4 separate regions of the Homo sapiens genome follow, and all the other regions are linked to region 1. Evidence: fine-mapped expression QTL. A gene starts in region 1. Each other region holds a variant in brackets. All regions are shown on one strand. Distances are from middle to middle.

Region 1 (7,993 bases):
GATTAAATTAAATATAGCACAAACACAGACTCTCTAACTCCAGAAAAATTTCTCTGGCAATTTAAACTAAAAGTGGGGAACAAAAGACAAGGACTCCACACACTTTAGATCTCCTCTCCAGCAAGAAGACCTTGCAAAGACGCTGCCTTCAAACTTGTATCTGCCTTTCCATATGTCCTTCCAGACTCATCCAAGGCCAACAAGCTGGGGTATGTGCCTGGGCTGCCCATGTGGCTGAGCTTTCTTCATATGTGGCCCTTGAAGTGGGCTCAACCAGGGCTCAAAATATGTGGCACAGGACACCTAACCCACAGGGTTCACCTAAAAGTTAATTGAGATAATAAATGCAAAAATAAAGTATAAGCAATAAAGTGCAGTATACCTGCAGCACATCATGGCGGTTCAGCTAGTCCAGTACCTTTCAAACTCTTTTGGCCGTGACCCACAGGAGGAAATCTATTTCAAATCACACACATACATCCACAAATATAAATACAAGTTTCATGAGAGGATACTCACCTGTACCCTGTGGTATGCCTCTGCTATTTTTTGTTCCCCTATATTCTAGTCTATTCTTGTTTTTAAAAAATTCTGATTGTGATTCACTAAATTGACTTCACAGGCCACTAATGGCCCATGATTCAAGGTCTCGCCTGGGAATGGTAACTAAGAGGTACACTCTCCACTCTGATTTACAATGCTGTTTGGCCACTGCACCCCTCTCTCTAGAATATGGGAGTCGGGATATGGCCTCAGAATCCTTCTCAACACAGTGATCCAGGCAGCCATAACCAATTCCTTGGAGTTACAATCAGAAATGAAACCTATTTATTATTATCCTTGATCTGATCCCAAGTGTTCATTTTATAAATGCAAAAATTGAGGCTCTGAAGGAAAAAGTGATTTGTCCAAGGTCACACAGCAAGACCTTGTGGGGGCTAGGGCTCCTGAAAAGAGCCACTTCATTTTACATCACCAGAAAGAAGGTACAACTGACCCAAAACATCACAAGAACATGGAAAAAATTCAAAATTTCCTCATGACCATGAGAAGTCGGCTTATATACATCAGTCATATATGGCAAGGAAGTTCTTATCACCCACCAAGGAGAAGACGTAAGGATTCTGAGGTCAGAGGAAGCAGCATGCCAAGAGCTGAGTCAAAAGTGAGAAAAATATTGTATCTGACACTGGAGGAGTTTTAAAACCCAGTTTCTCAAGTGAAACAAGCCATTGGCTGTTTATTTTCTAGGACGAGGGAGAGGTCAGCCTTATACTGACCAGCCATCTTTGTTGCTTTCGTTCTGCAAAAGCAAGAACCCTTGTTCAAGTTCACCTCTGTGCAGAGCTGGAAGTATAAGCAAACCTCTTTTCCTAGCTTGCTCCAAAGTCAAACTATAAAGCAGGCCCTTGAAATTTCAAACCTTGTTAGAAAAAATTAAAAAAAAAAAAAAACCTCCTTAGGCAGAAAAGCAAAACATTAAGTAATAAGAGTCTCCACTGTGAAACTGAATATAAACGATCTTTCGCCAAAATAATTCAGCCCATCATCAAATTACCACCCCCAAGTCCAATTTGCCAGATATTTTGCCCAATAATCTACGAGAATGTGGTGAACAGACAGGAGCTAATAAAAATTAGCTCACATGTCCATTTCTGGTCACACGTCCACCTAAAATAGGAGGTGAGAGAGCCAAGGCCAAGGTCAGATCTCAATCCAGAGAGAGACACCAATAGAAACAAAAGAAAACTGGCCCCGCCCCCAATAGAACCATCATGCACCTCTACTTCCTTTACAACAAACATGATCAGAATAACCAATTTAAAAAAAAAAAAAAAACAGAAAAAAAAAAAAAACAGTTCTACAAAACCAGAAATGATTTTCAACTTCTAGCCATAGACAACAGAACAAAATTTCAGCAGAATGGAATGAAGGAAGCTGAATTGTGTGTCAGGAGATCCAGGCCACACAAAGGGACGTGCTGCAATATTTTTATTCCTTGCACCAGAAATAACCTGTTATCTACAACCCTGACTTTTTCTCAGATGCCCCTACCCCCCTCCACCCCTCCCCAGCCCATCTCTCCTTCATCACTGCTAAACTCAGGCCTTCTGCCTCATGAGGCCTCCAAAGCCCCTTGGAAATTATAAATTCCTTGACCGTCCTACTCATCGGCCTAAATAATTCAACAGAAAAAAATTTTTTTAATTATGCTACTTAAAAAAAAAAAAGCTCATTCCAAATATGTCAGAATGTGACCAGTCAGCCCTGAAGGATTTCGTTACTAAAAAAATAAAATCTCCCAAATGCAATGGCGATGATGGGAAATGTCAAACCTCTGCCATTGTCAAATATATTTCACAGAGATAATATATTTGACTTATTCCACTTAAACATCCAAATTTCCACAAAACAGGGTTGGGAATCTATGGACTGGGGCCACCAGTTTTCCCAAGACCAGCTAGTGGCTGGCAAAAGGAGCAAAGGGTTTCCTTTCTTGCCCCAGGTGACCCACCATCAATTTCCAATCCAAGGTCCCTCCAAGATCCCGCCCTGCAAGTCCTAACAATATGCTGTTTTTGGACAGAAAAATTGTAACTTTTGGGGGATAGGCTCAAAATCCCCAGCAAGTTCAATTAGATACTAATTTATCACAAAACGCTTCATCTTTGGGTGGGTACTTTATTCTCATCTGTCAAATTTCAATTCGGTCAATATTTATTTGCCTTCTTAAATTTTTTTTTCTTTTTTGTTTCACCTTCATGTGATTCATTTTAAGGCCAAAACCTCCACATGAAATATTGTTTGCATATATGCTTTCATATTCCAAAGGCAAACCTTGGGTTTGGCTTTTGTTTGTATTTTGATTATTTTTCCTTTATTTTGTTGCTGCTAAAACCAGCTGAGTTGGTGTTATATCACATTTCTTCAGCAAAGTAAGTGTTCTACCAAGGAAGATGGATAAGAATCAGAATTTTCATCTCCTTTTTGCCCATCCCTCTTTTATCTTTTTCTTGTTAAGTCAGTAAAATTTGTGCATTTTTTTTTTTTGGTCACAAACCCCCCAAAATGATCAAGGCTAATGGATTTTTCCCCCTTTGAAAGTAATCAGGTTTTTGAAAAATAACAAATATTGATAAACTACCAACCCCACATCACAATCAAAGAGGCCTGAAACCAATCTAAATTTTTTTTAAGTAATAAATTTTTCAAATTGGAAGGGTGAACAAGACAGAAAAGGGAAAATTTTCTTCCTTACCAAGGATTCCTCAATCCTTGTCTTCATCAATTGATTCAGTTGCATGTCATAAAAAATGAGCTTCTGTGAATCCACTGTTAGTTTTTTCATAATAATGTTAATTATGCATATCTTATTTTAATGGCGGTCTCTCCTACAAATCTGTGGGCTACTCAATTTGTATAATGTATGAATTTACATTTTTTCCACTTAATATTGCTCAAAAAAGGTTCCTGACATTTTCTGGATAAAACAACAACAAAAAAGAAATGCCTAGACCTTTCAGGAAACAAAATCAGAAAACAGTCTTAATTATTCCATCAAAACAAAAAAAACACACACACACACAAAACCCAACAAATACAGAAAAAAAGAAAGAAAGGATTTCACTGTAACTTTTCTAGTTTCTGTTTTCTTTAGAATCTTAGGATTTAAATGCAGTAAAATGTAAATGCAAAATTAAAAAAAAAAAACTACAATTTTTGGGTGTGTCCAAAGCCAACATTTTAGGTTCTATTTTCTCTTTTAAATCCTTCGTTCGTGGAAATAGAAAAACTTTAAATATTGCCATATAGAGAAATTAGTCTTTTTTTGCCCGCTGAGCTAAACAAGTTCCAAATTACAATGAAGTACAATTTCTAATTGCTTCATAAAGCCAATTCTCTCAGTTTTCCCTAAACTCAACAATTTCCCTCCTTTCTTTATTCCAATTAGTTTTTTTCTCAAACTAAAATGAGTTGGGTACCCAAACTGACTTTGCTTTTAGGAGGTTTTTTGCTTTCTCCCCTCCAAGAACTAAATTCATTCAAATTCCAGCTTAATTTTCATTTACATATTATCTGGATTTGGCTTCAGAAATAAAAATTGTCTCCATGCTTCTGGAAAGATCAAAGTGAAAATTTTCACCCGAAAAAAGAAAAAAAAAGAATCTCTTACCCCTCCACTGCCTGGTAGTGCAAACTTTTGAAAAAATAAGAAATAAAAAATATTTCTTTTCAATTTTAATTTCTTTTTTATTTACAAAATAGTATCCTCTAGGTGGCGTCGTTTTAATGGGAAAAAACTACCGTTTGAAGAAAAATTAGAAAAAAAAAATTGAGAAAGGAAAATATGGCCTAAAAAAAAAGATTGTTGCAAAAATGGGGGACCTGGGGGGAAAGACCTCCCGGGGGGTCATCGGGGACCCCGAGCGCAGAGAGGGTCAGGGGAAAATTGCAAATTTGGGGGGGAGGGGGCAGAGCTGGAAGGGGTTGCATTTTTGCAAAATGTGAATTGTCCAAACTGAAATGGCTGCTCTGTTCTCTCGCCGCTTTGTTTTCTGGGCTCCGGTCCGAGCCCGGGGCCGGAGGGGGCGCTGGGTGGGGGCCCCAAAAGACCCCCTCGTCACCCCCACCCTCCTCGCACCCCGCAGCGCCCGGGGGGGTGCTCTCCGGACCCCGACCCTCCCGATTGCGCCCACAAAAAGCCCGCAAACGTGCCCAGGCACTTTGCATTTTGCAAATCTTGCAATGAAGTGGCGCAGCGCCCCGGGCCCCGGCCCCCCGGGGTCCCCCGCGCGGTGCATGCCCCCGGCCCCCCGTCGTACCTGCGGAGCCGCCGCGCCGCCCGGCTGGTTCATGGGTCCGTGCGGGAGGAGGCGGCCCCGGCGCGTCCTGCTCCTCCCGGGCCGGGCTGCTGGTGCGCGCACAATGCCGCCGCCGCCGCCGCCGCCGCCGCCGCCGCTCCCTCCTCCGCCCGCCCCGCTCAGGCCGGGGGGGCGGGGGCGCTGGGGGCGCGCGGGGGGGGCGCCGGCCCTCGCCCCCACCCCCGGCCCGCACCGGCCGCGCCGCGGCAGCCGCTGCCGCCGAGCCGCCCCTCGCGGGGCCGCCGCCGCCCCCCGCCGCCCTGCCCGCCCCCGGGCCGGCCTCGCCGTGCGGCCCGCGAGCTCGGGGCCTCGGCCTCGGCCTCCGCGCTGCCGGCCTCCGCGTGGCACACAAAGCCGGCCGGTCCAGGGGCGCGCCCGCCCTCCCGTCCGCCAGCCCCAGTGCCGCGGCACACCCGCCCCCCCAAACTTTCCCGCGCCGCGCCCTGCCCTCCCCGCGCCCCCCGCGCCCGCTCCCCGGCTCCCTTCTGCCCTCCCCCAGTCCCCCAGCCCCTCGGAAATGTCATTTTCACGCTGGAAAAAAAGTTCAGGGAGCCGGCTCTCGGCGGAACGCAAGAGGTTAATGGGAACTCTGTACCCCGCTGTACCCCCCCGCCAAAAAAAAACCAGATTGATTTTTGAAATAAAAGTTTTCAAGAGCTGGCTTGCTGGAAGACTGGAAGGCTTATTGGGAATATTCTATTGCCCTGCCACTCCTCCCAAAAAAACTAATGTAATAAAATAAAAGTTTGAAGGACTGGCCCCATGTCCGACAAGAGTGGTTAAGGGGACTCTAGCCCCCCAGCCAGACTGATTTTTAAAATAAATACTTGAGGAGCCGCTTTTATGTGAAATGCCAGTGAAGCGGCTGTTTCTGCCTATCCTTGCCAAATTAAAATATATATATGTATTTCTAAATAAAAGTTTGAAAAACTGGTCCTACAGTAAGACAAGAGGGGTTAAAGGTTAAGGGATATTAGCGCCCCCCACCCCCATATCCCCCAGTTAGGTTGATTTAGAGAAGGAAAATTTGAGAAACTTGCATGTGAAATAAAACGTGAACCAGGATATTTCTTTCCAACACCCCAAAATAGCCAGTTTTTTTGTTGTTGTTATTGTTGTTTTTTTTTTTTTAACTTGAGCAACTGCCTCCTTGTGACTTGGGAAAGTTTAAAAGGGATTTTTTTTTCTATTCTCTTCCCTATTCTCCTAAAAAATCCGATTTTTTAAAAATTGAAAGTATGAAGGACCTGCCCTATTATAGAGACAAGGAGGGATTACTGGATCCATCCTACATCTCCCACAACTGGTTGATTTTTGGAATAAAAATGTTAAGAATTGCTCTTCTATGAGATGCAAGGTGAACAGAAATCCTTCTTTGCCCCTCCCCAAAAGAAAACTGCAAGGGTACTTTTCAAAAATAAAAGCATTGGAAATTAAGAGTAACCAGGTATCTTCTCTCTGCCCCCACCTTCAAAAATCAAATGTTCTTTTTTGTAATGTTTAAAGAACTGGAGCAATATGAGACAGGAAAGGTTACAGAAATGTTTTCCCTACAATCCTCAAAAAAGTTATTTTTAAAATTTTAGGAAACGGAGGCACTGTGTAGAAGACACCTCCTTTCCCTAATAAGTTAAATTGGGAGTTTAGCCCTATATGGGAGACATGAAATTAAGAAACACAACTCTTGCCCCCCTTAACAAACACTCATAACACAAGACGTTAAAAGGAGTCTTCTGGCCGGGAGTGGTGGCTCACGCAAATAATCCTTTTGGGAGGCCAAGGCGGGTAGATCACGAGGTCAGGAATTGGAGACCAGCCTGGCCAACATAGTGAACCCCTTCTCCACTAAATATACAAAAATTAGCCAGGTGTGGTGGCACACACCAGCCAGTAGTCCCAGGTACTCAGGAGGCTGAGGCAGGAGAATTGCTTGAACCCGGGAGGCGGAGGTTGCAGTGAGCCGAGACCACGCCATTGCACTCCAGCCTGGGTGACAGAGTGGGACTCCGTCTCAAAAAAAAAAAAAAAAGAGGAGTCTTCTAACCACTTCCTCCCAGACCCCTAAAAGTTGGAGATTCCTTAAAAATTGAAATTGAAAGTGGCCATTTTTCTCCCCACCAACCTGGTAAGTATGTCCCTGCCAGAGGTTTGGCAGCCTCTGCCCAGGCTGGTGTGCAGCAGGCACCAAGGTGAGTAGGGGCAGCTTGCAGAGCATGGCAGAGTTGGGTCCTGTGAGCCCTGAGCATATGTGCTGGGCAGGCAGCCCCTAGTCCACCTGCCCCTCATCCACCAGGTGGTTGGGGCCTTGTTACCTGGAAAGATGCTCCCAGATTTGATGTCTGTCTGGCTCGATCCTTGTGTGAAGGTTTCTGGGCACCTGCCTCAAGGCCGGGTCCCCGCCTCTGCCTAGTAGAGCCAAGCCTGATCTTAGGCCTTAGAGTAGAAACTAGATCCAAAATGACATGGGGTCTCAGTCACCACAGCTGAAAGCTGTATGGTACCAAGGAAAAACTCCTGCCCTGGGAGTCGGGAAAACTTGATACGATAATTATTCATTTGAGCACTTACTATGTGCCAGGTGCCTTGTATCTAGTAGGACAGACACACACCATGAAGAGGAGAACTATTTGCAGCAGCTCTTCTCAAATGCAAGTGATCCTTGGAATCAGCAGGAGAGCCTATTCAGATTGCTGAGCCCACCCCAGAGTTTTGAATTCATTTGGTCTAGGTTAGGCACCAAGAGTTTGCATTTCTAATGCGTTTCCAGGTGATGCTGATGTTGCTGGTTTAAGGGCCACCTTCTTCAAACCTTTGCAGTACAGTGCCAACAGTGAGGTGCTCAGTGCAGCTCAAGGAAGGGTCCTACCCAGCCCGGGCGTGGGTCAGCGAAGATTCCAGGAGGGTCTTAATTAGATGGAAGTTTCTCTCTAGAGCAGGGATTCTTAAATGGGGACTTTGCATTGGTTTGGGGAACCAAGAACTACTCCTTAACCAAATGTATGTCTGTATGTGCATTTTGGGGGAGAAAATCTGTGGCTTTCACTCAAGAGCATCAGTGACCACCAACCTGAAATAATCCACAGCCTGTCTTCAGGCACCTCTGGCCTATAAAAGCTCATGGTCCTTCTCAG
Region 2 (7,993 bases), 21 kb before region 1:
TGCATTGGACCCCTTTATGCAGATGCAAAAACAGGCCCAAAAAGGCATGAAGAGGCACCTCAAGGCCACAGATGCTCAGCGCGATGTCCCCCCCACTGCGACACACTTAGTATCCCAGCTTCAAGACCAGTTAGACACGCAGAGGAAAAACAAAACAAAACAGAAATAGTCCGGAGAACAGGAGTTTGGAATAAAAGACTCAGAGGATTAGGGACCAAGGAGGCAGCAGGAGAGAGAACAAAACTTGCTTGCAGGTTTGGGACCCAGCCACCAGGCCACTTAAGAAGCTGTAAGCCTTAGTTCAGCCACGAAGCAGTGGCGTTTATGAGCTACGAGACCCCGTGATAACCCTGTCCCCTGGCTGGAGCTTCCACTCAGCTAGAATGGGGACTCTGGCCAGGGAACAAGGTCTTTTGCTGGGCCCGGGTTTAGCATGTCCCGGAAAAGCCCATGAGGCCCTGGCACGGGCGCTGATGTATCAGCTAATGTCTCGTTCAAGTTGTCAGCATTTTGTTAGAGCCAATTCAGTGGGTAATTAAGAAAAAAGTTGAGACCAGATGGGGAAGCAGATGCTAGCTCAGCCGCAAGAGCAGTTCCCTGCAAGTGTCTGGCAAAGCACCGGGCTGGCCAAGTCCGCACAGAGAAGGGCGAGAGCAACAGCTGCCTAGACAGGAGACGGGGCAAGGAGATGCCCGTTTTAAATGTTGGAGACGCTGAGGCCCAACGACGCAGGAGAACTTGAGGAAAAGGAGAGATTCTGCCCTGAGGAGAACTGGAGACAAAGTTTAGACCCTCAAGTGCAACAAACGCTCTCTCGCAGCAGCGGGAGAGGACAGTGCTAGGAGACAGGAGCTCGGGTTCGCGGGAGAAGACGGTGCTAGGAGACAGGAGGTCGGGTTTGCGGGAGAGGACGGTGCTAGGAGACAGGAGGTCGGGTTAGCGCGAGAGGACGGTGCTAGGAGACAGGAGGTCGGGTTAGCGCGAGAGGACGGTGCTAGGAGACAGGAGGTCGGGTTTGCGGGAGAGGACGGTGCTAGGAGACAGGAGGTCGGGTTCGCGGGAGAGGACGGTGCTAGGAGACAGGAGGTCGGGTTAGCGCGAGAGGACGGTGCTAGGAGACAGGAGGTCGGGTTTGCGGGAGAGGACGGTGCTAGGAGACAGGAGGTCGGGTTTGCGGGAGAGGACGGTGCTAGGAGACAGGAGGTCGGGTTTGCGGGAGAGGACGGTGCTAGGAGACAGGAGGTCGGGTTTGCGCGAGAGGACGGTGCTAGGAGACAGGAGGTCGGGTTTGCGGGAGAGGACGGTGCTAGGAGACAGCAGGTCGGGTTTGCGGGAGAGGACGGTGCTAGGAGACGGGAGCTCGGGTTCGCGGGAGAGGACGGTGCTAGGAGACGGGAGCTCGGGTTCGCGGGAGAGGACGGTGCTAGGAGACAGGAGCTCGGGTTCTGGCCTCAGCTCTGCCAGGTTCTCTTGGGTTGCTGCCTCACCTCAAAGAAGTCACTTTTCCCCTTCCTCTCTGTGCCTGTTTACTCATCTGTAAGATGAAGGAAAGAATCCCTGTACAGCCCACCCAAAGTAGTGATGAGGTTAACTACTGTGCAAAAAACTGTTAGGGTTAATCGCATTTAAAAGTGGCAGTTTGTCGGCCAGGCATGGTGGCTCACGCCTGTAATCCCAGCACTTTGGGAGGCCGAGGTGGGCAGATCACTTGAAGTCAGGAGTTCGAGAGCAGCCTGGCCAACGTGTTAAAACCCCATCTCTACCAAAAATACAAAAATTAGCCAGGTGTGCTGGTGCACACCTGTAGTTCCAGCCAGCTACTCAGCAAGCTGAGGCACGAGAATCACTTGAACCTGGGAGGCAGAGGTTGCAGTGAGCCGAGATAACACCACTGCACTCCAACCTGGGCAACACAGCAAGACTCGGTCTCAAAAAATAAAAAAATAAAAATAGAAATGGCAGTTTGTCAAAAAATTAAATGCAGAATTACCATATGATCCAGCAATTCCATTTCTAGGTACATACCAAAAAAAAATGAATGCAGAGTCTCAAAGAGCTGTTTGTCCACCCATGTTCATAGCAACATCATTCATAACAGCCAAAAGGTGGAAGCAACTGATATATCCATTAATAGACAAATGAATAAACAAAATGTGGTAGGTACATATGACAGTATTATTCAACCCTTAACAAAGAGGGAACCTGCCATGTGCTACAACACAGATGCACCTTGAGGACATTATGCTGAGTGAAACGAGCCAGCCACAAAAACACAAATGCTGTGTAAGTCCACTTCTATGAGGTACCTAGAGTCATCTAAGTCAGCGGTCCCCAGCCTTTTGGTACCAGGGACCAGTTACTTAGAAGACAGTTTTTCCATGGACAGAGGTGGGGGGAGTGATGGTTTCAGGATGGAACTGTCCCACCTCAGATCACCAGGCATTAGATTCTCCTAAGGAGCGCAACCAAGATCCCTCGTGTGCACAATTCACAATAGGGTTCGCGCTCCTATGAGAATCTAACGGTGTTGCTGATCTGCCAGGAGGCAGAGCTCAGGTAATGCTGGCTTACCTCCTGCTATACAGCCCAGTTCCCAACAGGCCACGGAC[C/G]TGTACTGGTCTGCAGCCTGGAGGCTGGGGACCCCTGATCTAAGTCACACAGACAGAAAGTGGAATGGAGGCTACCAGGGACTGGGGGAAGGGGAAATGGGGAGTGGCTGTTTAATGGGCATAGAGTTTCAGCCTGGAATAATGAGAAGAGTTCTGGAGATTGGTAGCCCAACAATGTGAATGTACTTCATATTACTGAACTGTACTTTAAAATGGTTAAGATGGTAAATTTAATATGTGTACTTTACAAAAAAAAAAACTAGGGAAAAAAGGTCTTAAAATCTAGAAAAGGAGTCATGCACAAGCCACCTACTGAGGAATTTCCGCTAGATGTTACAGATGTGGGGACAAATCACGGGACATCATGAGGGACCATCTCACAGCCACCCTCCTGGAGACTCTGAGGCAGGCTGGTAAGAGGAAAACCAAGGTGACAGGACCTACAGGGAATGCCAAGAGAAGCTAAGCTACTTCCAGCTAGGGCTTTCAAACCCACCCCACAATCCTACCAGGAAAGAATCTTGAGCATAAACCACTGGGCACTTCCCAGCGCAGCTTCACCAAGCCAAAGGAAAGAACCACATATTGAGGTAACTACAGTCTCAGCCTCACCTCATTAACCCCGGGCTGCTGCATCGCTGATCTATAAATGTGTAACATCTAGCCCTCCTCTTTCCACTCAAGGTTTGAGGAAGCAGTCCCAGCTATTCCAGAGGCTGAGGCAGAAGGATTGCTTGAGGCCAGGAGTTTGAGACCAGCCTGGGCAACATAGCAAGACCCCGCCTCTACAAAAAATTTAAAAATTAGCTGGGCATGGTGGTGCACACCTGTAGTCCCAGCTCCTCAGGAGGCTGAGGCAGGAGGATTGCTTGTGCCCAGGAGTTCAAGGCTGCAGGGAGATATGATCCAGGCTGGGTGACAAGGCAAGACCCCATCTCTTAAAAAAAAAAAAAAAAAACGAAAAATCTGAGGAAGCAGCTACTGACATCATTTTAGGATATAGACCAGGCCAAGCCAAACATGCCAAACACGAGACTTCCCTTATTTTGAATGAATAAATGAGGCAAACAGGGGGAGGGCGAAGGAAACAAAATGGAGTGACAAAAATAGAGTTAAGCATCATGCTCAAGATTGAGAGAAGAAACATACAGAGCACAGTGTTACTCTGGAAAACAGAAAGACATCTAAGACACACTCCTTTGTGTGCTCAGTAAAATTAAAGACAAGAACAGAGTGAAACAGAAAGAGAAGCTCTAGGAATGAAAAGTGCAAGGAATCAAATAACACCATTAAACCAGTTAAGAGGCCAGGCACAGTGGCTCACGCCTGTAATGCCAGCACTTTGGGAGGCTGAGGCGGGTGGATCATCTGAGGTCAGGAGTTCAAGACCAGCCTGCCCAACATGGAAAAATCCTGTCTTTACTAAAAATACAAAAATTAGCTGGGCATGGTGGTGGGCACCTGTAATCCCAGCTACTCGGGAGGCTAATCAGGAGAATTGCTTGAACCTGGGAGGCAGAGGTTGCAGTGAGCCGAGATCGTGCCACCACACTCCAGCCAGCCTGGGCAACAAGGCAAGACTCCGTCTCAAAACAAAACAAAACAAAACAAAAAACGAAATCCAGTATCCAAAGCAGTAAAGGGCAGAACTGTCAGTGCAGAAAACCGAGTAAGTGATGCAAAGGAAAAGCTGGGGAAACACATATAAAACTAAAAAAAATTTAAAGAGATTAAAATAACCAAAAGTAAAGATAATTACGGAAGGCAAACAATAGGGGTATATGGATATATAGAGATAACTACCATTTTAAAAAGATGAGACCAATGGGACATATGGAACAAAACATTTCCTATTATTAAGAAAGAAATCTGTAGACTGAAAGTACATGCCATGTTCCCAGCAACTAATTAAAAGGCATTAAAACATAGAGGCTGGAATAAGCCTCAAATTTCAAGGGTGAAAAAAGAGTGATACAGGCATTCAGGAAGGCTGGGGATGGGAACAGAATTAAGCACAAAAGCAAAATATCGTGTATCCTCGAAATTATCTTCTAAAATATTAATAACATAAGACTACAGAACATCTCTTGAGTACTGAAGGATAAAATGCATAACCCAAAAATGTTATATTTATCCAAACTGCCATTCATATATGAAGGAATCAAAAACATCTTCTTAGTTGTACTAGTACATAGGGGGAAAAACTGTAATTAGATGAAACAAAACACATCAGTTATGATAATAAATATAAACGGGGGTAAGTTCCATATTAAAAAACACAGATCTCAAGACTCTGAGTTTTTAAGTATAAGAAAGCATGATATCCAAAAGAAATACATAGTAGCTATTTTTTAAGTACACAGAACAAGCAAAAGTAAAATAAACATGTAAATCTATACAAGGTAAATTCCAACAATAGAAAGCAGGAAGTGCTTTCATAAAAATCTCTAGAATTAAAGGTAAAAGCAGGAAATGAACTATAAAAATTAGAAAATCCAGAACTGAAAGTAGAAAGCATAAAACAGGTCAAGGAGGGCCTATTTTTACAGATTAAGGGTACAACCCATAATAAAATGTAGCAGGCAGGTATACTTCTGTTAAATGACCTAGTAATAAAATACATAAAGTAAAACATATAAAGCAAATGGTAAAATCAAAAGAAATATTATAATATTAGAAGACATTAACAGGCTCTCAATTTCTTGAAATAATTAGAAAAACTTAATAATATATCTAAGGCCCTATGGGGAATCTGAAAAATACAATTAATAAAGTCAATGATATATAAAAGTGGCTTATGTAATGTGTGAATACAAGCAAAAAATAAATCCTAAAAACAGAAATTACTTCTTTCGCAAGCAGATGAAACATTTCCACAAATTAATATTTAAAAGGAATCCAAAAATTTCAATAAATTACAAAAAGCAAAAACTATTATTGGTAATGTTTCTCATAACAGAATAAACTAAAAATGAATAAAAATAAGCACTTATTGAAAAGGAGTAACACAGAAATTTAAATTATACTTTTAAATAATCGTTAGGCTACACTTACACATCTGTAAGTGACCAAAGATGTACTCAGAGGAAAATTCATTGATTAACCCAGCACTTTTATTACTAAACAGAAAAATAAAGAGCCAAGCTTTCACTCAAGAATTTTTAAAAATCTAAAGAAAGCAGAACGGTGGGCTTACTTACCATAAAAGTATAATAACTTGGAAGTAGTTAGAATTGACAAGTAACTTTAAAAATTTAAGGGGGAAAGAATAAAACAATAGAAATCAACAAAATACTCCCTGAATACCAGTCATTCAACCAAGGAATAAAGAAAAAAAATAATACAACTACAAAAAAAATCAGTTTAGGAAATAGAACCATACAGAGGACATTCTTAAAATAACATTATATTCTGTTCTATGCAAATACAGTTCAAATTCTTGATGAAATGAATACATTTCTCAGAAAATATAAATGGTCAAAACGGGCATGAAAAGAGCAAAAGCCAAAATGTTATTGAAGAAAGGATTACAGTAGAAAATAATTATCTCCAAAAACCTGACAAGACAGAGTTTAATGGCAAGTTATTTTAAACTCTGAAAAGATAATTCCCGTGCAATATAAATCATTCCAAGCAGGGACTACAAATAAACATCTGGCATGCACACTTAAACCCTCATTTCCTACACTCTTACAAAACACTAAATTGTTTACACATGACAAGGCCTCAGAATCCTTCTCAACACAGCAATCTCAGCGACCACTACCAATAAGTACATAATCTTAAATGTATTTATCCTCCATGTTTCAGATCACTGGAAAGCTTTCTAATTTATAACCCCTATACTAGCATAACCCCCTTAAAAAATGACAAAAACAGCACACTAAAAATAAAACTGCAGGGCAATCTCACTAATGGATATAGACACAAAACGCTGCAAATTGGACCCAGGATGCATTAAAAGAATAAAAACACCATAAACAAAATGGGTTCCTTCCAGGATAGTTTAATATTAGAAAATCTATTAATATAATTCATCACATCGGCAGATCAAAGGGAAAAAACCATATGGCCATCTGGGTACATAATAAAAAGGCATTTGTTAAAAATTCATCATCCTTTTACCCCCTCTTATTACTAAATAGCTTTATAGTGGGGGAGGGGAATGATTCAACCTCCATTGCAAAAGAAAAATTCAAATACAGAAAATTGAAAATCACTCCTCTATCGTATCACTCACCTCCATCTTCACAAATTTTAAAAATAAAAAACTCTTAGCAACTCAGAAGGATGCTTAGTGATAAAAAATATACATTTCTGAAACCAAAATAAAATATCATACTTGATTACAAAACGCTAGAATCCTTCTCACTAAGAAAAGAAATAAGATAATACAAGAATACTTGTTATCCCTGTTATTATTCAAATTGTTCCAGGAGGTCTAGTCAATGCATAATATAAGAGAAAAAAGTACAATATTGTAAAAGATGAAGGGAAATGAATATTATTTGCATATGATATTATTGCCTACCTAGAAACCACAAGAAACTGTTGGAACTAAGAAGGTAATACAATAAATTATCCACTAACTTAACAATCACATAAAAATCAGTAGTTTTTCTATGTACCCACATTAATTAGGCAAAATATTCAATGAGGGCAATGATCTCAGTCACAACTGCGGTCAAAAATATCAAATATCTAGGAATAAACTTAAAAATAAGTGCTCAAAACTTATTTGGAAAACTCCAAAACTTGAGTCATATAAAGGAGCGTGAATGAATAAAGAAACAGACCATGTTACCGGGTGGAAAAAACATAATATTGTCCTATCCAAGTCATTTTATAAATTCAAGACATTTACAATTACAAATACAAAGCTAAGTGCAAATGACACTTCCCTCAAGAAGTTGCCTTGGATTCCCTTTACCAAGATTCATCTTTCCCTCCACCACCCTTGACAATCAGTCTGAGAGCGCTGAACTTTCTACAGCACATTCCAGAAGGCTGTGAACAAAATTCATATTGATTCAGCACCTTGGCACCTATTAAGGGTCACTGCCCATAGTTGGCACAAATATGTAATGGTCAGTCAGGTGGATGGATAAATTGAAAAGGTGTTTAAGATTTTGAAAGATGAAGAATCATCCTCCAAATACAAACTATGTTTAAGATTTTGAAAGATGAAGAATCATCCTCCAAATACAAACTATCAGCATAAATGCAGAAAAACTGGTTATTAGAGAATTCTGGCTAATAAAATGTGAGATTTAAAAATAATTTACTGAAAAACTATTATTTGTATAAAAAAATAATGCAAGGATAGATATGAAATTGACAAAATCATCTTGGAGCACTGTGGTATTATGACTCTTTTTTTGCAT
Region 3 (7,993 bases), 95 kb after region 1:
GCTCATGCAAGAGACCAAGTGGGCAGCCCTCAGTGACACTAGCACCAGGGCCCAAGAGAAGACATAGATTTTCCTGCTCGTGGAGTGGAGATGACAGCTCCCAGCCCCTGGCCTCTCTAGCATGATGTATTATCTGGAGCTGACTATGCCTTTGATTCTGCAAATGGCCATGGAAAGCCTATTGATTTACAGGCCCAAAGGGTGACCTTGCCTTCAATGGATTTGTTTATGGGGCTTCTTATACTTGGGGCTTTGGGAGCTGCTGGGATCAAGGAAGGGGCTGTCAGGGGGAAATGCGGGAGAGAAGCCCCCTGCATGGGAACTGTGGGTGACTGGGCCCTTCTTGCCTTTGGCTGACATGGCAGATTGGCTCATCTAAGCCAAGGGAGAGGCCGGAAATAACAAGTCTGAGTAGGCAGTGGGTGTCCACGTTCCCCTCCTCCTCTTTCTCTTCTTTCTCTGCTTCCTTTTCTTCTCCCTCTTCCTTTTCCTCCACCTCCTCCTTTTCTTCCTCCTCTTCCTTCTCCTTTTTTTTCCTCCTCCTCCTCACCATCATAGCTGCTGCCATTCATTTAGCCCTTACATGTGCCAGGCATGGAACTGAGTGTTTTGCCTACATCACGTCCCAAAATCCTCCTGATAGGCCCAGTGAGCTGGGTGCTTGCATTTAAATCTCCATTTTAGAGATAAATAGTCCCAGAGAGTTTCAGTGAGTTGCAAAAGGCACAGAACTATTAGGCTGAGCCAGGCTTCTCACCGCCTATCTGGCACCAGGCCTGCGTTTCTGCTGTGCCATGCAGCCTGGAGTGGGGAAGAGCTTGGGCCTTGAGGCAGATGGCCAAGTGTGGGAGCTGGTTCTGCGGGTGCAGCCGTGGGACACTGGGAAGGTTACCTAATGCCCTGTGCCTCTGGTTCCCTGTAAAATGAAGATGATCATAGTTCCCCCACTCTTAGGGATGAGGTGAGGATTGAATGGGTTCATATCATGAACGGTACTCAGAGCAGTGCCTGGCATATACTAAGAGCTATACCAATGTTTCCTGCCCTTGTTTCCTCCCTTCGCTGCCTCTAACTAGCAGCCACACCCCACAAACTTGCATAATGCACCCCACTTGACAAATACTTCTTCGTCACACTGATTCCTTCAACCCTGAATCCCTAGACAACCCATTTTTCAGACAAGGAAATTGATGTTGACCCAGAGATGTTGGTGGATGTTGTCAGTTTCAGAGCTCTAATTGGAAGGTAGCAAAACTAGGGGTGAAGGGCACAGCCCTTGGATCATACAGACCTAGGCAGGAATTGTGGCTCTGGCCCATTTGTGGTAGGACCAAGGGCTTGAAACTCTAGTTCTCTGACCTTTAATATATTATTTTAAATGAAAAAAGAGGAAAGATACAGCCCATTCCATAGGATTGTTCTTTCCCTGGGCCTGGCACTGGGCTAAAAGATTTACCAGCATTTTTGGACTTCATCTTACACGTGTGGCGTGCCACAGTGGCCGGGTGCATGGTGCTCAGCAAATCGCCGTGGTTACCACTCTCTGTCTCAATGGTCCTCCCTGCCTGCCCCACGTCTCTGGTGCTCTGAAGAGTGGCTCACTCTGTCTGCCTGCTTGCTTCTTTGGGCCCTGCCTTCTGTTTAAGCTTCTTGTCTCTACCCAACCAATACCTTGCCCCACACTACTCCTCCCCAGAAACTAAAAGTTACTCTAGCTTCCTGATCCAGTGTTGCTCCTTCTCTTCCTCTTACTCAGCCCTTTGGACATGGCCCTTGAGCATTCTTTGTTTTGAAGTCTGCTGTCCTCCTGGACACTGCCTTCCCTTCCCCTTTGTTTGGTGCTCTGTTCCCTGTGCAAGGAGGGAATTGTCTTCCTGCAGTTTGCTTAGGTGAGGTGGGGGTGGGAGGTGAGGGTCAACAGGGACATTTATGAGCCTACTGAGCCTCTGAGGATTGAGGGAGGAGGCTTCATAAATCACTCCCAGACTTAGCACTCCTCCAGTGTGATATGGGGTCCTGTTCACCTCTGTCCCCAGTACCCCTCTCAGAACCAGTGCACAATAGGTGTACAGAATATTTGCCAAGCCTTCAGGTAAGCCTGGATCCAGAACCCCCAGCATGATTCCCACAGCTGTTAATCTTCCCAAACAACATCCTGCTCTGAACTCAGGGGATGTGATTTGTAGAATTGAAAGCATACATTGGAGTAATTTCAGGATGCGGCTGTTCTGCGTATTTGTGTTAGTCAGAGCTGCCTGGTGGGGATGGGACTGATGTTAATCCACTGATCATGCAATCTGAGCAACAGCTTATGGAGAAACATCCAGATTCTTTGACACCCATGAAGACTCTTCTCCATGCTCTCAGTCATCCATGAAAATTGAGAGGCAATTGTGGGAAAAGCTACCAAGATGGATTTGGAATAGTCCCCAGAGCAGTGTTGATCCAGGGGCATTGCCCCTAACTCTGGGTGAATAACAAGTATACCCAGCTTTCCATCTGTCTGTCCGTCCATCCATCCATCCATCCACATCTATCCACCCATTCATCTGTCCATCTGTTTATCTGTTCATCCATCTGCCCATCTACCTGTCCATCCATCCACTCACTCAATCATCCATCATCCATCTATTCATCTATCCATCCATCTCCCTATTCATCTATTTATCTGTTTACCCATCTACTCATCTACCTATCCATCCACCCACTGAAACAACCAGCCATCTCTCATCCATCCAATCAACCCATCCACCCATCCATCCACCCATTCATGCATCCATCTATCCAACCATAGAACGGATGATGGCTCAGCCATATTCCTTGCTTGCCACCATACATTGGCCTTAATGCTTCAGAAATACCCCTGGATTAGTCAGCTCCGCTGCCATAACAGCATACCATAGACTGGGTTGCTAAACAACAGAAATGTGTTTTCTTACATTTCTGGAGGCTGGAAGTTCAAGATCAAGATCAGGGTACCAGAATGGTTCTGATGAGGGCTTTCTTTCTAGCTTGCACATGTCTACCTTCTGGCTGCGTGCTCACATGGTCTTTCTTTGGTGGGTGTACATGGAGACAGAAAGAGAGAGATGAAGATCTCTCTCTCTCTCTCTTCTTATAGGGCCACTAATCCTACTGCATTAGAGCCCTACCCTTATGACCTTAATTACCTCCTAAAATTCCTATTTCTAAATTCAGTCACATTGGGGATTAGGGCTTCAAAGTATGAATTTGGTGGGGGGTGGGGGAACATAAATCAGTCTATAGCAACCCTCAAGGACAGGAGCATCTTACTGTGTCCTCTCTTCCCACACCGATATCCTACCAACAAACAAATGGAAAATACCTGTTAGTCCACTATTTGGCTTTCCAATACTCACAGGTGGGAGTAAGAAATGCAGGATGGAATATTTGGAGTTGCAGATATGGATTTGATTCCAGGCCCTGTCACTTAGCTAGGTGAGGAATGGCACTTAATCTCCAAGAGCCTCAGTTTCCCCACCTGTAAAATGGAGATAATTACAGAACATACTTCATAAGATGAGATCCTCCACAGGAAGTACACAGCACAGTTTCTGGAACACAGTAAGTGTTTAAAAAATGGTAAAGCTGACTATTAGGAGGGCCAGGGCCAGGAAAGAGCATTTCAGAAAGTAAGAGGCAAATTAATTACGGTGCTTAAGGGTGGGCTTTAGAGCCAGTCTGTCAGTGTTTAAATACAGGCTCTGCCTCTTCTTAGCTGAAAGACCTTGCGCTTGTGCCTCAGTTTCCTCATCTGGAAAAATAGAGCTAATAATGGTAGCTGTGTCATGGGGTTGTTATGACTTAATGCCTGGAACATAGTAAAAATAAAAGATATTGACTATGGTTATTTGAGAACCAAGACACTGTGACTAATCTCTGGGGTCAATGGTTTTCTCCTTAGGTACACTTGGTTAATTTAGAAAAAAAAAATTTATTAACTTACACCGCTTGCTGGTGTGAGAGATGGGTCACTAGCTGAGGTCAAGGCCCATGTGTCCATGTCTTCTCTCTCTCCCCACTTCACCCTGGGCAAGCTCTGGCCAGAGCAGGGGCACAGGCCCCAGCAAAGATCCCCCATAAGTCCCCTAGATTCTGCCCGTCAGCGGCCCAGGCCTCAGTGGGAAAATACGATCGGAGAGACTGCATGCTGTTCCCCCTTTTTAATTACTGCTTCCTTAATTG[A/C]GTCACAAGTGGTGTTTGTGTTGCCATCAAACCCACGAGGACCTCGTTGTTTATGTGAATGACTCTCAGTGGAGTGACAGCTCTGAAATGTGAGATGTTCTGTTTGTACCAACTTTAACAAAGTGGCTACAGATTTCCTTCTTAATGCATGGTCTGGGAGCTAATAAAAGGGACTGGTGTTTCCTTTGCAAAGAATGACATGAAATATAGAATGGAACTCTAGTGTCACGGGACCTGGAGCCATGGGACGTTGGAGACACAGAGGGCCTCCCATCTGCTGCTCTGAAGCTCCTAGGGGCGGTGAACCTTGTATCTTATAAGGCAGCTCATTCTGTGATGAGACCACTGGCTATTGGGAAAATGTTCCTTGTATCTGAAGCTCCACTCTCCATTTCACTGATGCTAGCTGAGTCCTCTGGAGTAGTCATCTGGAGAGGTGGCTGGAATGGGAGAGAGTAGGAGGGGCTGTGACACACTGAGACTTCAGGCTGTCTACCATTTGGCCAACATAGGTAAATAGCTGTATAGCAGGACCTTCCTGGGGGCCAGGGCTTGTGCCGGCGGTGACACAGAGGACAAGACAAAGTTCCAAAGAGGCTTTGTCCTTGAGCTATTAGCACCCAAGTTGGAAGGGCCACCTGCATAGAGCAACAGGAGTTTCACTCAAGAGAACCAAAAGCCAAGACTGGTGGAAACCAGGAAGGGATGCTGTCAAGGAAGGCTTCCTGAAGGAGGAGGGTTCACATGAGCTGGGCCCAGAGGAAAGAGCATAATGTGGAAGGATGGGAGGAGTAGGAACAGAGAGAACAGATATCTCCTGACCTCAGTGGGTCAAATGCAGCCACAGCCCGGCCACTCTCCTCTCATGCACCTCCCCTAAGACCCAGCCAGGCACAAGCCCAGGAGGAGGCTGTGTCTGGGGCGCTTCCCTGTTATTTATTTATTTTTTCAGTTTATGGAAAAGTAATTCAGGAGACATTATTTCAATCAGACCCCTACGCAGTTTAGGAATGCTAATACTTCCTCTATTTAAAAGGTGTGGAATAATTAGGATGCTGATGAAGACCGAGGCAAACCATTTTCTAGTGCTCCACGCTTTTCCCATCCCTTCCGTATCCCCAGTGACAAATTAACACATAAAAGAACGACGGCTGCTAACACTTAGGGCACATTTAGCTCAGATTGGAAGCTAGGTTTTTAAGTACAGGAAGGTTTTCATGGCTCAACCTTGGAACCATTTGGGAACGCAGAAAGGAGCCAAAGAAAAAGAGTGTGGGCAGCGTGCGGAATGTTCAGGGGAGGCCTGGGGCAGGGCGGGTGGTGGAGGGCAGTGGAACCAGTGCTGGATTCAGGGAAGAGGTCTGGGGTTTAATGCTGTGGACTTGCGGTGTGACCTGGGGATGCCCCAGCCTCCTATCTGGGGACAGCAAAAGAGTGAGACTCATTGGATGGGAAGAAAAGAAGGAGAACTTCAAAAAACATAAAAATAATAGTAAAGAATCTTCACTGAACAATTTTGAGCCAGATACTATTCAGAGGGTTTTGTTTGCATAAATTCGTTTAACCCTCCAAATAATTGCCCTGGGGTGGGTATTATTTTTATTCCCATTTTAAAGATGAAGAAATTGAGGCACAGAGCAGGTAAGTGACCTAATAGGTTGCGGAAGAGAAATTTGAACTCAAACATAAATAACGATGCCTGATGATGTTGGAGCCAGAATTGTGAAGGCACAGGGATTGTTCCAGGGTGGAGAGTGCGGGCTCAGCCTACGAAGGGCCTTAAGACACAGTTGCTATGGGCGCAATTGTGTCCCTCCGCAAAAGATGTTGAAGTTCTGTGCCCCACCCCCAGTACCTGTGAATATGACCTTATTTGGAAATAGGGTCTTTGAAAATCATCAAGTTAAAATAACATTAGACTGGATGTGGTGGCTCATGCCTGTAATCTCATGCTTTGGGAGGCTGAGGTGGGAGGACTGCTTGAGCCCAGGAATTTGAGACCAGCCTGGGCAACATAGGGAGACTTCGTCTTTACAAAAAATAAATTAAAAAAAAAAATTAACAGGGAGGCTGAGGCAGGAAGATTGCTTGAGCCTCAGAGTTCCAGTGAGCTATGATTGGGCCACTGTACTTCAGCCTGGGCAACGTAGCAAGACCTTGACTCTACAAAAAATTTTTAAAATTAGCTGAGCATTGTGGTACACACTTGTAGTCCCAGCTAGTTGGGAGACTGAGGCGGGAGGATCACTTGAGCCCAGGAGTTCAAGGCTGCAGTGAGCTATGATCGTGCCATTGCAGAGTGAGACCCAGTCTCTTAAAAACAAAAAAAAAACATGAGGTTATTAGGGCAGGCCCTAATCCGATATGACTGAGTCCTATGATGAGAAGGACACAGAGATAGACAAAGCTGAAGTGACAACATAGGGAGACTGCCATCTATAAGCCAAGGAATGCCTAAGGACTAGAAGAGAGATGGAGAATTGATCCTCCCAGCCTCAGAGCTGGATCCAGCTCTGCTGACACCCTGGTTTCAGACTCCAGAATGTGAGACCTTGAATTATCTGTTGTTTAAGCCACCCAGTTTGCGGGATTTTGCTGTAGCAAGAAACAAAGACAACAGGGAAAGGAGATGGGTCTCTGTGGCCTAGGCAATAGGGAGCTATTGCAGATTTTGGAGCAGGGGAATTACATGGTTCAGCATTTTAAAAGATCACTCTGGTCATCATGTGAATACACAGGGTCCTGGAGGACAGAAGAACTGTTACCATGTGTGAGATCATGTGACAACTGTCCAGGGGCTGTGTGGCGATGGTGGCAGGCAATTCCCTGCAATTGCCAACAGAAAAGGGACAGTGCCCCCCTTTTAGGGCTGCAAAGATAATGAAGTTAAATAACTTTATTCCCTAAATCAACTGCCCCCTTTCATCACTTCATACCCAGGGGAGACTGAAATGCTCTGAGTTAATATCTAAAAAGAAAAAAAAAACAGAATTCAAGGATCAAACAACTTTTTTGATGAGGGAAGTGTTATTTCTACTCAGCCAAGACATCAAAGCCTGTGAATCGTGCTTTTTAGGTAATATTAAAGTGGGCTCTAAATAAGGCTTGAATATTTCTTTGCTTTTCCCAGGGATCACAGTCACCTTTCCTAGAGAAAGAACACCAGTGATGTCCCCAGCCAGCCTCCGCTCCAGGAGGACCTGCAGGATCTTCAGGGAACACAGCACTTGTGTAAATATGGCTTACATTTCTTTTTGCATTTAGCAGCCTAAGCATTAAAATTCATTGTTCTGGACATAACATGCATTTCTGTAGATTAAATTGGCTAAAAGCCTGACAGACAATTCAACTATGTTTCAGACATTTCTACTCACACAGATGGCCCTTGTGTCAAGAGATATATCTACATTATGGCAAAGTCACCTAACCAATGAGTTTCTGAAAAGCAAATTCCATTTACTCGTTGATCTCAATTATTTCTAATTAGATACTTTTTTGACTCTACTTGTAATAGTTAGCTTTTGCTGCATAACAAACCACCCCAAAACCAGTGACTGAAAACAAGAATTATTTTGTTATTGTTCCAGAGTCTCTGGGTCAACCAGATAGTTCTACAGTCAGGTAGTGGGTCAGCTGGGGGCTGAGAGGTCTGGGATGGCCTCACTCACATATTGGCTAGAGTGAGTGGGAGAATCTGTCATTTGGCTCTCCCCATATCAAGGAGGCTAGATCAGACTCGCTCACATGGTCAGTTTCAGGGTTCCCAAGCGTCCTTTCTAAGCCTCTG
Region 4 (7,993 bases), 31 kb before region 1:
AGGGGACAGGGGCAGCAAGAGTGGGATCAGTGCCCCAGCATGGGAGCCACTCACTGGTCTGGCTGGGAAATGGCCACTCCTCACCATTCCTCCAATCTCCTTAGCCTCAACTTCCCTTGAAGCAGAGGCTGGCTCCTGCCACACAAAGTGTGGTCGGTGGCAGTATCAGCACCAGCTGAGAGCTTATTAGAAATGAAGACTCTCAGGCCCCGCCCACACCTGCTGAATCAGAATCTCTGGGGGTGGGGCCCAGCAATCTGTGTTTCAGGCCCTCCTTCGCGTTCTAGGACAAGCTAACACTAAAGAAGTGGTCTGGGTGATCAACAAGACTCCTTCTAGATTGAAAAGTCTGAGAAACAATCTAAAACATGAAAATGAATTCACTTACAAGATATTCTTTTCAGCAATATTTACAATAAGGAAAACCTGTAAATAGCAAAACATCCCCCAAAACAGGCCACTGTTGGGCTGTCGAGGGTACAGCCACCTCATGGAATACCCGCAGTCAAAACCCTCAAGGCTTGCAATAACACTGGGAAACAGGAATCTTATAATGTTGAGCTTTTTTAAAAAAATCAGGAGAGAATTTGTATCCATCCCACCTATTAGTAAAGAAAAAACAATACCGGCCAGGCACGGTGGCTCACGCCTATGATCCCAGCACGTTGGGAGGCCAAGGCGGGCGGATCACCTGAGGTCAGGAGCTCGAGACCATCCTAGATAACACGGTGAAACCCCGTCTCTACTAAAAATACAATAATCAGCTGGGCATCGTGGCAGGTGCCTGTAATCCCAGCTACTCGGGAGGCTAAGACAGGAGAATCGTTTGAACCTGGGAGGCAGAGGTTGCAGTGAGCCGAGATTGCACCATTGTACTCTAGCCTGGGTGACTAGAGTGAAACTCCATCTCAAAAAAACAAAACAAAAACAATACTTGGAAAAAAGCTCAAAATGTCAAAAGTGTCAACATCTGAGTAGGGATCTCTAGGTGATTTTCTTTCTTCCTCATACTTTTCTGTGTTTTCTTTTTCTATAAAGAGCACTTGCTATTTGTTATAACAAAGAAAAACAAACTTGGTTTAATTGTGTTTTAAGACAGTGCTTAGAAAGCAGAAAGTTTCAGGCCGGGCGCGGTGGCTCACTCCTGTGATCCCAGCACTTTGGAAGGCCAAGGCAGGCGGATCACTTGAGGTCAGGAATTCAAGACCAGCCTGGCCAACATGGTGAACCTCCATCTCTACTAAAAATACAAAAAAAATTAGCCAGGCATAGTGGCAGGCACCTGTAATCCCAGCTACTCAGGGGGCTGAGGCAGGAGAATCACTTGGACCTGGGAGGCAGAGGCTGCAATGAGCTGAGATTGTGCCACTGCACTCCAGCCTAGTCGACAGAGCAAGACTCCATCTCAAAAAAAAAAAGAAAAAAAGAAAAAGCAGAAAGTTCCATGCTAACTTGGAATTCATTCAGATATGGGCTAGGCTGGGCTCTGAGCCTCTTGTCAGCTGGGACGGGAAGACGGGCCCTGAGCACAGGTGTGAAGGAAGGACAGGAGAGAGGATGGAGAAAAGGGCTTTCAGATGAACCACTTTAGGAAAGTGATATTGTCCCTGGTAGATAATTGGACAAATTACTGAAGTAAAAATGTAATGGTGGAAGAGGAAACAACCCTGAGGAGCCAGATCCAAGCGAAAGGAAAATAAATGCATGCCCATGAAGACGTCCTTCACAGCAGCCGCGCACACCTGAACACACCTGGCTGGCAGGAACACGCTCGTTATTAGGCCAATAATAAGTCACTGTTTCCAGGAACTTCTAAGCCCCGGAAGCTGATGCTGGGCTGCAGGTCCACCCCAGCTGGCTCGAGCTAAGTGGACTCGGCAGGAATCAATAATTACAGAGTGAAGAGCAGGAACCAGGTGAACAAACACAGACCTGGAATTAGAAGCTGGCTGGTCAGGAGGCTCCCCTACTTAGAGGCCAGAAATGGAGACTCATCCTGCACCCTACTCTCTTTCTGTGGTCTGGGAGGCCATGGCACCAACTGCCTCAGCAGGAGAGACAGCATGAGCAAAGTGGGGAGGTGGAAAATCAAGGTGTATCTAGGAGAGCCATTTAGTATAGCAGGGATAAGGGGCAGCCAGGCGGGGAGTGGTGAGTTCATAAAAATAGGCTAGGCTGGCCGCACTGGCTCATGCCTGTAATCCCAGCACTTCAGGAGGCCAAGGCGGGCAGATCCTGAGGTCAGGAGTTCGAGACCAGCCTGACCAACATGGTGAAATCCCATCTCTATTAAAAATACAAAAATTAGCCGAGCATAGTAACACACGCCTATAATCCCAGCTACTCGGGAGGCTGAGGCAGAAGAATCACTTGAACCCAGGAGGCAGAGGTTGCAGTGAGCTGAGACCGCGCCACCGCACTCCAGCCTGGGTGACAGAGCGAGACTCTGTCTCAAAAAAAAAAAAACAAACAAAAAAGGCTAGGCTGTGAGTATCGGGGAGCGGGATACAGCATGGGAGCATCCGCATGCAAGCACCAGAGGCCAGGAGGCGCTGGACTCGGGAGAAAGGAATGAACATTTCCACCCTGTGGAGCCACCACCCATCCCCAAGCAAGCCCAGGCCCTGAGACGGTGGCACCTTCAAGCTTGGGCTAGCAAGTCCCAGGGAGGAAAGCAAGTCACCACCCTCATTCCCCTCTCCCCAAACCTCAGTGGGCATCACATGACACCCCAAGGTTTCTGGACAGCTGCCCACTGAGCCCTGACAGACCCAAGTTTCCCTAAACAAATCTCAGGAAAAGTCCATCTGCAGCCTCGTAGCACATACAGAGCGCAGCCATGGTCTGAAGCCACCTGATTTTTCCCCTTCCTTATCCACATCTGTGGTCAAAGTCCCAGTCACGATACTCCACCCAGACCCAGGGGGACAGGGACACACAAGGCCTCTAGCCCCCAACCACCAAGCAAGAGCCACAAGTCCCAGAATGACCTGAGCTGCAGGTATCAGGCCGGGACATGCCTCGATCTTCCATTAGCATCACTGCATACAACTGCAACAGGCGACAGGACCATTCCCTCCAACCCATTCCTTTTCCAAATGAGGCACCTCAAGCTCAGAGAGAGAGAGAGTGTCCTTGCTCAGGTCCCACAGCAGCCGAGGGGCAGAGCTGCGCCTCGAACCCCAGACTCCTGGCTCCTATCCCAGCTCAGCAATGACTTGGCCACTAAGGGATTCACCGGCTTTGGGGTATAAATGGCGACTGACCCAGGAACTTACTGAAGCCCCATAGGAGACTAAAAAGGAGGACTAAAACAGAGTCATGAAATCACCGTCCCCAGAAGGGGCCCAAGCAGAGGCAGGAAAGATGATCATTTAGCAAGAATGGCACTTCAGAGATTGAAGGGCAAGACCTGTTTCTTGGAGGGTGAGGGTGGCTGGGGTATGAATGGCCTTGACATTCCATCCTTATTATGGTATCTTGTGATTCTGTGATCCTCACTCCCCAGTGAGGCAGAAGCAGAGCCTGAGAAGGGGCAAGAGATAACTCTGCACAGCGGTCTTCAAACTGGGTTCCTCCAGCTGCCTGAGGGGCCAACCAGAGAGGGGCCAAGCAGATAGGAACCTGCTGCCTCGGGGCTGACTTCCCCATCAGACACAGCACCCAGGGCCCGAGAAACTTTTAGAGACCCACAAAAATGCTTTCATTCCTTTTAAAATCAGAACTTAAAAGATGAACTTTCAGGTCAAAAAAAAATGTATAACATAGAATATTAATATATTCATGTCTACACCAATGCAGTCATACAAAATAATTTTTAATATTTTTGTATGGAGGAAGGAGCCCACGAAGACAAAAGTGCCTAAGGCCCACAAAAGTCATAATATGGTCCTCCCTCCTCCATTTTTTTAAACTGCTTTTATCTATGTATTTAACATCCTGAGCACCTGTGTGAGATTGCATTTATGAAAGAGTTCTTTAGCTAAAAAGGCTTTTGAAATCTCGTAGTGGGTAAAGATGATGTTTTTCTCTATAAATGTTAGGGTCTTAACTTACGAACAAGTGAAATGTGCTGTTACATCAGTCACTGAACTTTCCCAAGCCAAAGGCTCAAGACATGAAGATTCTTTTGACTGCCCGAGCCTCCCAGTTCTCAGGAGCCATCCTGCTGAGGCTCTGGGTGTCACTGTTTCATGGAAATGCAGGCACACTGTGCGTCATCCTTGTTTTTAACATTCCTCCCAATTTAAGTCTTGAGACCCACAAAGCACTAGATGGAAAATAATCATGCTGACCTCTTGAGAAAGGGATCCCACACTGCAGACTCAAGCTCTCACAGTGACACCCCCATGATTCTGAAGGGGGCAGCTCTCATGGGAAGGAGGGGAATCCTAAAATCAGGATAAATCAAACAACCCCATCGGAAGGAAAGAGAGTCCTTGAAAGAAAACCCCAGCTCATTTGAGGACAGTCATCTAACTGTGGCTCTCAACCTTCCGTGTGGAAGCATTGCCTGGGGAGTTGGTTAGACATTCAACTGTACCTCCCAGCGATGCAGAAACACCAGTCTACAGGTGGCCCCAGGGGCCTCTCATGCGGGGGGGTCCTGGACAACCCTCTGGAAAGCGCTTGCCTACTCATGATGAAAGAGGTGGTGTGGAGGTGTCCTCAGCCTGCTGGGCCTGGGTTTCTTGGTTCTGATTATTGGATAAGGATTCAGCAAAAGGGAACAAGATCCAGGAAGCCTCATTGCCTGGGAAAGTCCCTGCCCGGGGTGGCAAGAGAACAGTGAACGGCCAGCAAGTGGGAGGGCAGAATGCCACTGTCAAGCCAGGCGAGGAAAAAACTCACCAGGGCAGGGGCCAAGCAGACCTGTGAACACCATGAACAATTGGAGCTGCAAGGGCCAGAGTGGGTGAGCTTGCTCTAGAGGCCAAAGGGGATACAGTGGACAGTTTTGTTTCTGCCTCCTCAGCATCCCATCTTACAGTACAGAACTATCTCATCCCTTCAGGTCCCCACAACCTAAGTGGTGTCAATGGGCTATCCCCAGCCCCCAACTCCAACAAGAGAATCAAATAACCCAGGGCCATCCAATAATAACAACACACCATCCTCGCACTGTGATCGGCTTAGGGATGAGCCTATGGCCCTCATTGGGCCAATGAGAGCCTTCCTTGGGACTTCCGTTAAAGCCCTTGGAAAAGAGATGCTCTCTTTCCTCCAGGACTACTCCACTGGGGGTGAAAAATAAGCATGGTGCTGCTACAGCCATTTCTGCCACCACTTGGAGAGGGCCTGCCTGAAGAAGTCACCACAAGGAAACAAGAGCTGAGAGATGGAGAAGAGCACATTTCCGATGACATCATCTGCATATGTGGGCCAGCCATGCCTAAAATTGGCTAACCCCTGGACTTTTCAGTAGGCATGCCAATACACGTCCCCTTTTGGATTAAGCAAGTTTGAG[A/C]TGAGTTTCTGTCACTTAAAACCTAAGGCGTCCTGACTATAATGGATGGTTTGTTGTATAAACTGGCAGGTTTGGTTTAAAGGCAGAAAGAATCCTCACTTTGCTAGGAATTAGCTGCTTAACCTTAAGCAAACCACACCAGCTCTCTCAGTTTCCATTTCATCTCAAACTCTCTAGCTTGTGGTGCAGAATTAAATTACATCACAATGACTCCACGGAGCACTTGGAACATTATGTGGCATTTGTAGGTTCAGTAGATGTCAGGAAAGAAAGCAGCAGTCTAAAGGAAGCCTCCTCCCCAGCCACCCCCACTTGCTAAGGAAATAACAGTCCTACATGATGGCAGTGACTAAAACGACCCTACAACCTGACTATAGCATGGAAGAGCGAAATGCCCATCAGAAACCCTAAGCCAAAGGAGGAACAGCCAGGAGAAGCCCTTTCTTCAGAGCCATAACCTCTGGCATCTTCCCAGCACTTTATGGAGCTCAAAGCAGTTTCATATTCATCATCTATCCCCACAACCCCTGCTAAGAGAATGAGACCCTCAGAAATATAAAACAGCGCAGCCTTGACAAGGGCCAATTTGGTAATATCTTTGAAATGCACAGAGTCTATGACCCCACAATGCCTCTTCTGGTATGCTATCTTCCAAAACTACTCTCATCAATGCAAAATAATACTGATACAAGAAGCACTGGTGGCTTCTAGTCATGACGGAGTAAGAAGGACCAGATTCACCACCCACCTTAAACAACTAAGAAACTGATCGAAATATATCAAACAATGATTTTTAGACACTGGATAACAGGCAACACTGGGCAAAACACCCTAAGAGAGGGAAGCAAACAAGGTGGGTCCTACGATTGTCCCATCTTGCTGCCTGGAGAATGATCAAGCTGCAGGGCAGGGAGGGGAAAACCAAGCAGAGCTCAGAGGTCTCCTGAAGTTGAGGAGGTATGAGTTTAGACTTTGGGAAGAGCAAGGAAGGTGAAACATGCAAGGGAGGGAATCAGAGAAGAGAATCATGCGGAGAATGAGCTGCAATTCTTCAACGGCTTCACCCAAGTGCTGATCAGCGCATGTGTATAAGGAAAGCACCTGAGGCTGGAGAAAGAACCAAGCAGAACCATTCTCAGAGCTCATCCAGGGCTACGAACAGTTCACACTCCCAATAGCCAAAGTGGAGAAATTTCACTTTGACTGTAGACTCCTGGTCTACAGGCTTTTCTATAAAGGGTCACAAAATAAATATTTTAGGTTTTATGGATTGTTGTGGAATGGAAGCAGCCACGGACAGTACACAAAAATGAGCATATCTGTGTTCCAATAAAATTTTATTTACAAAAACAGAAGGCAAGCCTGATTTGCCCCATATTTGGCCTGTAGTTTGCCAAACCCTGCTCTATTCTGAAGGTTGCTCTGGTCTTGCTGAACAAGGCTGAATAGCAAGCCTCAAAGATCAAACAGGCACTTTGGGAGGCAAAGGCAGATCACTTGAGTCAGGAGTTCAAGACCAGCCTGGCTAACATGGTGAAACCCCATCTCTACTAAAAATAAAAAATTAGCCAGGTGTGAGGGCGTGTGCCTCCAATAGGAGGCTGAGGCACAAGAATCGCTTGAACCAGGAGGCAGAGGTTACGGTAAGCCAAGACTATGCCACTGCACTCCAGCCTGGGTGACAGAGCGAGGCAGTCTTGGAAAAAAAAAATCAAACGGTTTCCAAGTAATTTAATGACTGTGATAGGCAGAATAATAGAATAATGCCCTCCCTGTACCCAACAAAGACATGTGCGTCCTAATCCCCAGAACTGTGAAGGTGTTAGGCTACAAGCAGATGCAATTAAGCTTGCTAATCAGATGACTTTGAGATAGAGAGATTATGCTGGATGGTTGGAGTGGGCTCAAGGCAAGGGTCCTTCTAAGTGGAAGAGGGAGGCAGAAGAGAGAGAGCCAGAGAGATGGGCAACGTGAGAAGAACTCTGCCCAATGTTGCTAGCTTTGAAGATGAAGAAGCCATGGGCCAAAGAGTGTAGGTAGCCTCTAAAGGTTGGAAAGGGAAACAGATTCTCCCCTAGGGCTTCTAGAACCTCGGCTGACACCTTGATTTTAATCCAGTGAGGCCCATTTCAGATTTCTGATCTCCAGAATTACAAGACAATAAATTTGTGTTGTTTTAGGCAACTAAGTGTGTGATAATTTGTTAGAGCAGTCAAAGGAAACAAATACAGCTAAGACTTCACCAATAACAGAGCAAAACACAGCACAAAAATACTTAAACCCCAAAACTGCCAGCACTAAAACAATCAGGAATGTAAAATTCAGAATCAAAATTCAGAATCAAAAATTGCTAGGCATGAAAGCAGCAGAAAAATTAACAGGAAGAGATACAAAAATGACATATGATAGACTTTATGGATGTTGAAACAGCCATCATAAATATACTCCATATGTCCAGGAAGGTAGAGGAAAAAAAACATAATCACCTTATAGGGACACAGGAGATATAAAAAGACCCAAACCAAA

Evidence for each region. PIP is the estimated chance that this variant, and not a neighbour inherited with it, causes the effect.
Region 2: its variant is the best candidate, but not a certain one, in a credible set for the expression of ZNF618 in whole blood (TOPMed, PIP 0.56).
Region 3: its variant is the best candidate, but not a certain one, in a credible set for the expression of ZNF618 in whole blood (TOPMed, PIP 0.68).
Region 4: its variant is the best candidate, but not a certain one, in a credible set for the expression of ZNF618 in esophagus mucosa (GTEx, PIP 0.72).

What each region holds. Positions count from the first base shown.
Region 1 is chr9:113,873,244-113,881,236 of GRCh38, reverse strand. It overlaps ZNF618 (zinc finger protein 618), which reads right to left and starts at 4,928. Exons shown (of 15, transcript NM_001318042.2): 1 at 4,824-4,928. The coding sequence starts at 4,856. RefSeq lists enhancers at 6,504-7,004, 7,005-7,505.
Region 2 is chr9:113,894,013-113,902,005 of GRCh38, reverse strand. The region is part of intron 1 of ZNF618 (zinc finger protein 618); the gene reads right to left. Among named protein-coding and RNA genes, the nearest start is that of ZNF618, 22 kb to the right of the region's middle. The variant C/G (reference allele first, on the strand shown) is at 2,610.
Region 3 is chr9:113,778,340-113,786,332 of GRCh38, reverse strand. No RefSeq gene overlaps it. Among named protein-coding and RNA genes, the nearest start is that of ZNF618, 94 kb to the left of the region's middle. The variant A/C (reference allele first, on the strand shown) is at 4,207.
Region 4 is chr9:113,904,263-113,912,255 of GRCh38, reverse strand. The region is part of intron 1 of ZNF618 (zinc finger protein 618); the gene reads right to left. Among named protein-coding and RNA genes, the nearest start is that of ZNF618, 32 kb to the right of the region's middle. The variant A/C (reference allele first, on the strand shown) is at 5,468.